Linked DNA regions of Homo sapiens. The protein of the gene in region 1 purifies or fractionates together with the protein of each later gene. This does not show direct contact. Each region holds a gene or a part of one and is shown in the gene's direction. Other genes may lie near its edges.

Evidence for each region.
Region 2: the proteins of PRSS37 (region 1) and FAT1 purify together in Homo sapiens (affinity purification with mass spectrometry; one large-scale study listed by BioGRID and IntAct). This does not show direct contact.
Region 3: the proteins of PRSS37 (region 1) and CD109 purify together in Homo sapiens (affinity purification with mass spectrometry; one large-scale study listed by BioGRID and IntAct). This does not show direct contact.

What each region holds. Positions count from the first base shown.
Region 1 is NC_000007.14:141,838,534-141,842,715, reverse strand, and holds the start of PRSS37 (probable inactive serine protease 37 isoform 1 precursor), read left to right. Parts: upstream 1-1,230; 5' UTR 1,231-1,666; coding exon 1,667-1,700; intron 1,701-2,366; exon of another isoform or gene 2,367-2,451; intron 2,452-3,236; coding exon 3,237-3,378; intron 3,379-3,711; exon of another isoform or gene 3,712-3,780; intron 3,781-4,182. UniProt on the Homo sapiens protein: Plays a role in male fertility. May have a role in sperm migration or binding to zona-intact eggs. Involved in the activation of the proacrosin/acrosin system.
Region 2 is NC_000004.12:186,717,242-186,720,893, reverse strand, and holds part of FAT1 (protocadherin Fat 1 isoform 1 precursor), read left to right. Parts: intron 1-3,652.
Region 3 is NC_000006.12:73,699,051-73,702,702, forward strand, and holds part of CD109 (CD109 antigen isoform 1 preproprotein), read left to right. Parts: intron 1-3,652. UniProt on the Homo sapiens protein: Modulates negatively TGFB1 signaling in keratinocytes.

The sequences.
Region 1 (4,182 bases):
CACTCCACATGGACATTGCCGACTGCCCAGGGATTCCCCACCATAGACACTCATTCCTGGCTCGAAGTTTGGTCTCTCTGACCCCATTTGTGATGCCAATTGTAACAAGAAAAATCCAGAATCATATTTTTAAAAAAACCTTTCCCCCAAACTAGGAGGGAGCCAAGAGACCAAAGAATGACTCAGACAAGTCCAGCTTGGCCAGTGGATAAGTTTATTAGGACTTACATATGAGACACTCCTAGATAGCAGAGGACACCTTTAGAGACCTGCCCTGCTTTCCATCTCTAAGCTGCTTTTAAGCTAATTTTCTGGCTCTTTGCCTACTGTGTGTGCATGATGGGACTGTTTTCCTTGATAGGTTCTCAGGTATTCTCTGGGATGTTTGGGTACTCAAGGACACCTGCTCCTCAGCTGGACACCATGGCGTTGACTCACCACTTGGCCATCAAGGATACCTGCTTCTTGGCTGGGCACCGTGTCCTTGACTCACTACTTAGCCATTAAGGTTCAAGCAGTGGTCATACACCCTTAAGTATCCTGGTGGGGGACCTGCAACCCTACACCAGTGACAAGGCCTATTTCTCATTGTCCACGACATGTGACTTTGGGAAAACTACTTAGATTCTCTCTGCTTCAGTTCTGCCACCCACAGACCAGAAATAGATACCAGACCCAGCCCTATCTCTTCTTTCTAGGGTTGTTGTGACATTTGGAAAGAGATTATGGGTTTAAGAAACTTTAAAGGGTTAGAGTGATACAAAGTGTAGTGAATTTTACATCTCAGACTAACCTGATATAAAATCTCTACTGACAAGTCCGTAAAGATCTTAGCTCAGTGCCTAGGATTCAGTAAATGCTTAGAGGATATCAGCTATTAGTGTTACCGCTCATTTTCTTGTTAGACTATGCTCCCAATTATCCAAGGATGACTTTGGTAGTCTAATATTGGTCTAAGTCTTTAAGTATTAGAGGTACTGCCTTCTGAATTGTCACCAGGCCTAATGTCATCTAGACTGTAAACAATTCCCCAACTATCAAGATAACTGTTCTATGAATGCTTTTCATTTCCATATTTTCTTGGCTCAATGCTGTTGCTCAGGACAAAAAACACCAAGTTGGTGATGATGACTGAGTGATGAAACAGTGATCAGAGGGACATATGAAGCTAGTGTAACAAAGATGGGAGGGGCTGGGGAAAGTATAAGTAACTATTAGGAGGTTCAGAGCAAACCTCAGGACACTTACTCCCTGAGCTAAGGTAAAGAATATTGTCCCTCATAGCCCTGGTCTCAGAAACTCTGTGGGGAAGATAAGTCCTGAGCCTAGAGCTGCCATTTCCACAGACAACTGAACTACCTTCAAACAGATGTGTTTTTAGGGGCAGCAGATAGAAGGAGCTGAATCCAGGAGTTTCCTTCCCTGAAATGCCCCAACAGAGGCACAGTCCTCCACCTTCCCTGGAACAGAGGGCTTTCATCTGTCTCTCTGAAGCCATCTCCCTCCCCTGTTTATGCCCAGAGCTGCTTTCCAATCCCATGGAGTGCCTCCGTATCTAACCATAGCCACTGAGTCTACCAGGTGTTCCTGAGAAGACAACTAAGCCAACCGCTCCACACTCTGCTGATTTTCTTCTACATCTCACAGGGGGAAGAGCTGGATCACCATGAAATATGTCTTCTATTTGGGTGTCCTCGCTGGTATGTACTCAAGACCTTGTACTCTGTCCTGTAAGGCACAGTTTAATGGATGGGGTGAGACAGAGGCAGGATTGCGAAGGGTGCAGAAAAAGAGTCAAAAATAGTGTCATCAGCAGAATTAGGAGTCCTGCCTCTCAGACTCCATCCAAAGGCTCTCCGGATAGGCTGAGCCCACTTTTCTAGTGTTAAGCTATAGGGTGGGTTAAGGCACACATGTGCCTTGGAGAAGGCTTAACAGTGAGTGTCCTCCCACCGACACTAATGCAGAAAACAGAGAAGTAGAAACAAAAGATCAAGTACTAGGACCCTACCTTCTGTAGTCCTTGCCCCACATGGGGTTCTTCTGACAGCAGAATTTGCAGATGAGGCATTTCCCACCATTCTCTGACTGCCTAGGTTGTATCACACATTAGCTGTGTGAGATTAGCCAAGTTAATTAACTCTTCTGTGCTTCAATTTCTTCAAAATGGGGGTATGACTACCCATATTATAGAGCTATTGTGAAGATTAAATAAATCTATGTAAAGCACTTAGAACAATGCCTGCTATAGAGAGCTCAATGTCTCTTGCCCTTGTTTACAGTCTACCCTTTTCTCTTTGGGGTTTCTAACTGTGTGATCACACAGAAGGGTGTGGTGAGGTACAGACCCAGTCTTGGGGAAGGTTAACAGGAGTAGCAAGAGAAGCCAAGACAAGAAGAGGGCTTTATTTCTGATACTAGAATCAGCCTTCCTCCCCTTTATTCTCTAGGGTATGTTTTAAATAATTCATTTATAAAAACAATATATGTTCATATTACAAAATTTAGACATTTTTAAAGTAGAAAAATAAGCATCATTCATAATCCCACCTCTTAGTCAACACATGCTAACACTTTGAGTTTACTCTCAGAATCTATATATTTTTTGCATTTAAATGTTTTTATTTATTTGTTTTTAGACAAATAGATTATATCCACAATTTTCTTGTTCTTTTTAACTTAAATAAGCATTAATATTCTTTTGCTGTTTAATATTCTAATTAGTTTAATTTTTATTATATATGATGTTCCACTTTTTGATGTGCTTCAATGTCCAACATTACTATGTCAGATATTTATGTTTCCAGTGTTCAGCTGTTATAGCTAACATGAGCATACTTGTTTGTAATCCTTGTCTATATCTGATTTTTTTCTTTAGAATGGATTCTTGGGGTTGGAATGATTAGGTCACAGGTTATAAACAATTTATGATTCTTGATGCCTGTTTCTAAATTGCTTTTCAAGAAGATGGAATCAATTTACTAGCAGTGATGAGTGTCTCTCATTATACTCTCTTAGATTGAATATTATCAATATTAAACAAAATTATTATAAATATAAGATAAAATGGCATATCGTTTTAATTTACATTTTTATTAGAAAAACATGTCAAATACGTTAACACTTCTTGGCCAACTGATAACTGTTTAAGAATCATCCAGATTCCTTTTCAAGTAAGAGACTGTTACCTTATTTTTATAATATTTATGTATTAAGAATGTTCATTATTTTCTCAGGGACATTTTTCTTTGCTGACTCATCTGTTCAGAAAGAAGACCCTGCTCCCTATTTGGTGTACCTCAAGTCTCACTTCAACCCCTGTGTGGGCGTCCTCATCAAACCCAGCTGGGTGCTGGCCCCAGCTCACTGCTATTTACCGTTGAGTATTTGGGCATCCCCATCCCCAAAACAGCTACTGTTCATTCTAGATCAGTGGTTCTCATATAAGGGTAACTTCTCTACAGGGTACACTTGGCAATGTCTGAAGATATTTTTGGTTGTCACAACCAGGGGGCAGTGCTATTGGCATCTAATGGGGAGAGGCTAGAGCAAAGATGCTGTTTAACATCCTACAATTCACAGCACAGTCCCCACAATAAAGATTTGTCCAGCCCAGAACAGCAATAGTGCCACTGTTGAGGAACCCTGTGTTACATGTTATGCCTCCTCAGACTCTCATAAGTTTTTTTCTTTTTTTTTTTTTACTGGCAGTATGAATGCATTTTATCACTTAAAGATCTAGCAGGTAACTGATGATGCACTCAAATTGGGTCAATTGAGGTGAGTTTTAAGAAGGAACCAATTGCAAAGGTATGGAGACATTAAAGGGACAATATTAAGAATAGTTCCATACCACCAGGGTTTGTATTAAGAAAATGCAGTTACCACCTCTAGGCCTAAAAAGGCAAGAGGAGAAGATAATTTCAAAGGAGGCAAGGAGAGATAGAGAAAAAGCGAGACCTGTGTGAGGAGACAGCCTGATAAGGATTGTAACCCCTAGTCAAGGAGCACAGCCACTCTGTGACAAAACTGCAGGGAGGGACCTGGGAGGATAAGTACTCCAATCTCACTCTTCTTCCTCCAGTTACTTTCTGGTGCTTCCTATTGGCCAATAGAAGGAAGCCAGAGGACAAGAGAGCCCACTGATTAAATCCATATATGTCCCCTTCCAAAGGTGCAGAG
Region 2 (3,652 bases), on another chromosome or scaffold:
GAAGGATGGATGTTTTATTTTCCTATGTTATCCCTCTCTATATCCCCTCCCCAACACAGTCCTGCCTCACATTTCTCACTCTTAACGCTTTATTCATCTGTCCATTTACCAATCCAACAATAGTGGACCTCCTCTGTGTCAAACATTGGGCCAGACACAACATCTAGTGCTGAACAAATCGTGTTTCCTGCCCTCAAGCAGCTCGTAGTCTGATAAGGGAGAGGACAAGTACACAGTCTCTTATAGACCAGTGTGATAAGAGATCCATTCAGGTCAAGGTGGTCCATAGCAGCACCTCAGTGAGCTGGGGGATCTGGGGCAGGTGGATTTAGGATAATGTGAGTTCTGAGGGAAGTGTGAATCAGAGGGGAACAATTCAAGCAGAGGAAATGATGTGTGCAAAGCAAGTTATAGAAAGCATAGTGTGGCTTGTGGTGTGATGAGTGGAGAGAAATTCTGAAGACCTCACCGTACCATGTTATCTTAGGAAAAGGATTGGCTTCTTTTTTTTGTCTAGGTAGAACATAGAGAATCTTGACTATGACTTAAATAATCTTATTAAAAAAGGGAGGATTGTTTTTATGAGGCAGAGGTTAAGGAGAGAGAAAAAGAAAGAAACGTTGAAGAGAAAGGTGAAAACAAATAAGCTGTATGTGAGGAGTGGAGGGCAGGAAACAAAGAAAATAGTAATGTTTGCATTATCTTTCGGAAGGGAAGAGGTCAAGATGTTACATTACTTTAGAGCCTTCACCACTAGGTGGTGTTATTGGCTCAAGACAGCTTGGTTACTGAACTTGTTGCAAGTCTGGGAAGTATGCCTTTTTGTTTTGAAATAAGAAGTAGTGTTGGGAAATTAGGAAATTAGTTAGAGGTTAGATTATCAAAGGTCTTTAATGCAAGGTTAAGAATCATATACTTAGCAGGCTAAGGGGAAATACTGAATATTTTCAAGCTAAAGAATAATATCACAAAGAAGTTTGAATAGGTTGACTGGGATTGGGGGCAGAAAGCAGGAATACCAAAAGACTGTAGGAATACTCTGCATGAACAAAATACCCATTCTAACTAGGTGGTAGCAGCAGAAATGCAAAGGGAACCATTTTGAGAAATTGAGAAAGAAATGTCAAGTTTGGATAACTTTTGAGAAATGAAGGTTTGAGAGCCAGGAGGCTGTAAAGATTTTAGTCCATCCTTCAATTTCTCGAATACATAGAGTCGAAAGGATTAAGCAAGTTCCTTGAATTCACACAGTTGATTAGTGACAAAGCTGGAGCTAGGTTCCACATTTGATGTTCTCCCAACCCCTTCCTTTTTGTTTGATTTGTTAGTTTGCAAACTTGGTTGATTTGGGAAGTGGTGAGATTGGAAAATAACTGGAAGAGCTGTTATTTTGCAATGGCGAAAGGGTGAAAAGTCTATATAGTTGTCCCTTGGTCTCTAAGGGAGGTTTGGGATTTTATACCCAAATCTGAGAATGCTCAAGTCCCTGATATAAAATGGGGTACTATTTATATTTTTACTGTTTTATTGTTTATTTTAAAGACGTTCTCAACCTGAGGTTGGTTGGATCCATGGATGCAGAACTCTTATATAGTGAAGGCCAATCGTATAACTTAGGTTTGATGGTATTTTAGGAGGAATGTTACGAGGTGTTTGAGAGAGGTTAGAGCTGAAATTGCAGATTTGGTGCACTGATCCTTCATGATTTGAGGCAGAGTAGATGAGATCTTTAAGGGTGGTAATAAATGCATGTGGAGGAAGAGTTGGAAGACAAGTTTGTAATGCCAGAGTTGTAGGTGAGTCAGTGTAGAGTATAAAAGAGTATGGAAGAGAATCAGGAGAATGTTGTCATTCATTTTTCATACCTGTGGATTGCCTCTTTGTTTTGGGGGACTCTGTGACCGAATGAAGGATCAGGAGTGTTGGGGAGGGGAGTGAGTGGTGTCAAAGGTGTCATGAAATCAAGGAGGATGAGCACTGAGAAAAGGTCATTGGTTTGACATTAGCTTGTGATGCGGGAACGGCTGTTCTGCCAGGGTGGACCTGCAGGATCTCTGTGGAGCAGCGTTTGGCGGAGAGGGAGTTCTAAGGAAGCCAGGGCGGTGCTGTGAAACTCCTTTTCTTGCGATCTTTGCCAGTATAAAAAAAGAGAAGAATAAGAGTGTTTGTTTGAAAGAAGCAAAGGTTTGAATGAAGTTTATTTTATTTTATTTTATTTTATTTTTTTGAGACGGAGTCTGGCTCTGTCGCCCAGGCTGGAGTGCAGTGGCGCAATCTCGGCTCACTGCAAGCTCCGCCTCCCGGGTTCAAGCGATTCTCCTGCTTCAGCCTCCTGAGTAGCTGGGACTACAGGTGCATGCCACCACGCCCGGCTAATTTTTGTATTTTTAGTAGAGACGGGGTTTCACCATGTTGGCCAGGATGGTCTCAATCTCTTGACCTCATGATCTGCCCACCTCAGCCTCCCAAAGTACTGGGATTACAGGCATGAGCCACCGTGTCTGGCCAAGCTTATTTTTTAAGTAGGAGAAGAACCTGTGTGTGTGTATGGATTCTGCACAAGGTGTCAGGAGTGGGAGGAGCTGTAGAAGAGGCAGGATTTTGTGGTATCAGAGTATCTTTATTTGCAGCTAGGGTGGGTGGCATCTCTTCTGAGGTGTAAGAAGAGAGAACAGGTGAAGAGAACATTTTAAGAGGAGGAGGGAAGATGGACTTTTCTCCCTGAAGATTTCCGTTTTCTTGCTGTACATGGAACATTCACTTTCCTGGTCTGTCATTTAGTGAAGGGTTGACCGAATCTAATTATACAGGGAGCCCAATTCAACGTATAAAATAAAGTCTTACTTACCAACTTGGGAGTGGAAGAAGTGGCCATTGTTGATTATTGGCTACTCTGCCAAGATGTCATTTAAATTACTTCTGTTTGTGGAGAAAAATACATTAGATGAGATGATCTCCATTCACAAGAGGTCAACAGTCCATTGAGCTTCTCCTTGGGCAAAGTTTGTCCTGGAATGTGGATGAGGAGAAAGTGGTTGGAGGATAAGGAATATATAGAGAGGGGAAAGAAGAGAATAGCACAGGAATGCCTCACCCTGCCAGAAATAGACACACAGCCGCTGCCTACCTGTCCTGTCTTGTCGTTCCCAGGAGCACAGAACAACTAGAACCCGTCATCTTCGTAATGCCAACAGACATGTTTTATAGGTTCATGTAGATAACTAGGTTTTATATAGAGGCTGTTTGAAAAATAGGACATCTGTTTATCTTTCTTAAGGGCAGGAACACTTCAGGAATCTATTTTGGATTGATTAAATCATGTACATGGTGAAGTTTTCTGAAAAAGCCAGATTGTAGTTCCACACTGTCATTGTCAGTAAAGACCATTCTCAGGGTTAAATTGGAACCGGTGGTTGATCATGTGAAGGCAATATTTAAAGTATGTCTTGCTAGAGTTACCAGATTATTGCAGCCCCAGTCAAAGATAACAACATATAAATGGAGTTAGCAGAAGTGATTAAATGACATATACCAAGCCTAAGGCTGCTGCTCAATTTCTAGGGTCACAGCTTCCTCCGTTCATGCTGAAAATCATATGAAGATGGGTTGAAAAGAATTAGTGTACACCCAGAAAATAAACAGGATCTACTCA
Region 3 (3,652 bases), on another chromosome or scaffold:
TTTACATGGGGGCAGACTTCAACTTTCGTTATTGGACTATCATTTCTGAAAATGAATGACCCCTGATCTTATGATAGTCGCTAAAGAAAATATTGAAATATTAAATCACAGGACATAATACTTAAGGTAGTTCCACATTCATTATTTATTCATTAAGAATTTATGAGTGGGAAGAGGGAGGGTATTAAAAAACCACCTATTGGGTACCACACTTATCACCTGGATGATGAAATAACATGTACACTAAAGCCCTATGACAGGCATTTTACCTATATAACAAACCTGCACGTGTATCCCTGAAACTAAAATAAAAGTTAAAAAAAAAAGAATTTATAATATTGGCTCCACTAGTGTGGCAGTTTTCCTGCAATGCAGAGATCCAGAATATATATGGATGTTTTTGATAAATATTTGAGCTTTGCTTGGACATTTACATACTCTAATTCTAGAATTTCACCTGTTAGGTCTTTTCTGTGATCTCTGTTATCAGTCTCTCTTTTTTTTTGCAACAAATAGTACCTACATTGGGGTGCATGTTGTTGTGGCTTGGTTTTCAGCTTTATTCTTAGATCTTCTTTTGGGAGAAGGGTTCCTTGTATGCCCATAGGAAAGTTCAAGTACTCAAGACTGGGGCGGGCAAAGCTGTCCTGGGAGCAGAATGGATCTGTGGGAAGGAAGGAGGGAAAACGCTGCTTCTTTCATGGGCTGTTTTTGACTCTATTGACATAGAGTTTCATTGAAAATGCCATTGCTAGGAGCACTCTCCTGTTTCAAAGGAGAATGTTACTGTATTATCAGAGGCTGGGAGTTATTGTTCTCAGAGCAGATGCTTCCTGTAATGTGAGGACTTGAGGATCAAGACACTTCTCCCTGCTTGTCTTCACATCCTTTGCTTTATCTGGCTTCTCCAGTTGTAACAATATGTAGATAAACCAGGACTTCTAAATCAGGGGTCTGGATCTTCAAGTATCTGGATGTGGATTCATGTTTTGTTTTTTCTCCATCACATAAACACCAAACACCAACAAATAAATACCTTTTATTTTTAAGGGACAGAGTCTCACTCTGTTGCCCAGGCCAGAGTGCAGTGGTGAAATCATAGCTCACTGCAACTTGGAATTCTTGGGCTCAAGTGATCCTGCTGTCTCAGCCTCCTGAATCAGCTGGGACTACAGGCAAGTGCCAGCATGCTAGGTTTAAAATTTTTTTTTTTTTTGTAGAGATGGGGTCTTGCTATGTTGCCCAGACTGGTCTTGAACTCCTGGGCTCAAGCGATCTTCCTGCCTCAGCCTCCCGAAGTGCTGGGATTATGGGTATGAGCCTGATTGTTTCATTTTCCTATGAGCCACCCCCAGCCCCCCAACAGAAGGTTGGTTTTAATAAAGATTTATCTTCTAGTAAAGTTGGGTAAGGCAGTAGACTGTGTCTTAGTAGCTTATTTCCAGCAGTTTTGGATTTCTTAGAAATCCTCAGGATAGGGAGGTGTTTTACCCAAACCACAATAGATTTCTGGCTCAATTTGTGTTGGAAATAGTAATAACTAAATTGTTCAAATGGAGAATGTATTTAATAAAGGTGAAAAAGTATGGCATTTCTTCAGGGAAGAGTTCATTTGTTTGTTTGACAGATATGGGGGAGATTTTATTTACATTTCCACTTTTATGGCCAGGAGTGTAGGTTATATTACTGTTATTCATTTAAAAATACATTAATTCTACATTTATTGGGGATTGATTGTAGTTTTTTTTTTTTTTTTTTTTTTTTTTTTTGAGACACAGTCTCACTCTGTCACCCAGGCTGGAGTGCAGTGGTGCGATCTCGGCTCACTGCAACCTCTGCCTCCCTGGTTCAAGCGATTCTCCTGCCTCAGCCTTCCGAGTAACTGGGACTACAGGCATGTGCCACCATGCCTGGCTAATTTTTTGTATTTTTAGTAGAGACGAGGTTTCACTGTGTTAGCCAGGTTGGTCTTGAACTCCTGACCTCGTGACCTGCCTGCCTCGGCCTCCCAAAGTGCTAGGATTATAGGCGTGAGCCACCGTGCCCAGCGATTATGGGCTTTTTTTTTTTTTTTGGTGAATAATAGACCTTTAGAAAAAGTATTTCTGCTACACTTTGCAGAGTTCTGGGAAGGTGTATCAATGCCTTTCTAGTAGTGAGATTCAAAAGATTGCTTGTCACTGTTACCACTGTCACTGCCTCTACCACTATCAGCATCATTGCCATCAGCTCCATAGTGATTAGAACTATGTTCCTAATCTTATCTTCCTTTGCATAAAGAGTTAGTTAAATAAACATAACTGGCAAAACGTAGTAAAAGTTCAGCAGGTAATAATTACCAGAGGAAAGAAGATGGCACAGCTATTGGCATTTAAAATCAAGTCAGATTACTGTTTTGGGTGGAGAGTGAGTCTGTCCCTTTGTCTCTTCCCATATTTTTTTTCTCTTTCCTTACTGTGAAAGGAGTTCCTTGCCAAATCAAGAAAAAAGAAATTAAGAACATTTTGAGAACTGTCCTCTCATCTGTTAAGGCATATAAAATAATTTAATTTTCGTGATGTCCTTGAAACCATAATTTCTGTTTTATTTTCCCTTCTCTTGCTACAATTTGACATTTTCATTTGTAAACTTTCAGTAGTTTTCCTGAACAAGAGTCACTTCAAGTAATAAAGAATATAACCTTTCTCCCTCATTAATGAATTCATCATCATTAGTTTCATGTAAACCTGATTTAAGAAAAAATGCTAGAGGCTGAGTGCAGTGGCTCACAACCGTAATCCCAGAGCTTGGGAGGCTGAGGTGGGAGGATTGCTTGAGCCCAGGAGTTTGAGACCAGCCTGGACAACACAGTGAAATTCTATCTCAAAAACAAAAACAAAAGAACCCTTAAAACCAAAAACTCCCAAAAACCTAAACTGAAAATGCCTACTGAAATTTTGGGAACTCTGCATGGGCGTCTCCAGGTGAGTGCCTGCTGGTTTGGGGGCACCATTTTTTAAATGCTGCCAATCCTACTTCCATCTTCCCATTGAGTTACTGGGGTGGAATGTGCTCTATAAATGTGTCTGTAACTCGCTTTTTCTTTTTGCCCTAAAATCCTGGAGAGTTAATGGAGTGTTAACCTTTTTTTAAAGATTTTTTAAAAAATCTATTTTTTCCTTTGTTGTCTTTCTCACATTGACTATGATATATTTTATTTTCCATCTTGGCTCAGTAAGGGTGGGAAATTTTTAAAAATTGAGATATTAGCTGAAAAACTTAAAAAATCATCCAATTTGGTTTGGATGGTTTTCTGGTGGAAACAAAGCTCCTGAACATGCATTTCATGCCTCGTAGATAAAAATCAGTCCCATGGTCTTTATGAAAGTAGATTAATTAGTGTAGTGTGTGGGCAGATCTCCCAGAGCAGGTTTTCACAGGCAGCTTTGCCAACATAACTCAGTCTGAACCTGCAGTTATGTTAGAATTATTTTTAAAGGGTGTAGGCTTTTCATTCACACATCGTCTTTGTTCTTGTGTGTGATGTATATTAACAGGTAGGTGGTACCTGAGAATAAAGGACCACAGCATAATCACGATGTGCCTGGGCTCTGGAGCCTGGCTACCTGGGCACAGGTGCTGGCCATTCCACTTAGTGGTTGTGTGGCTGTGG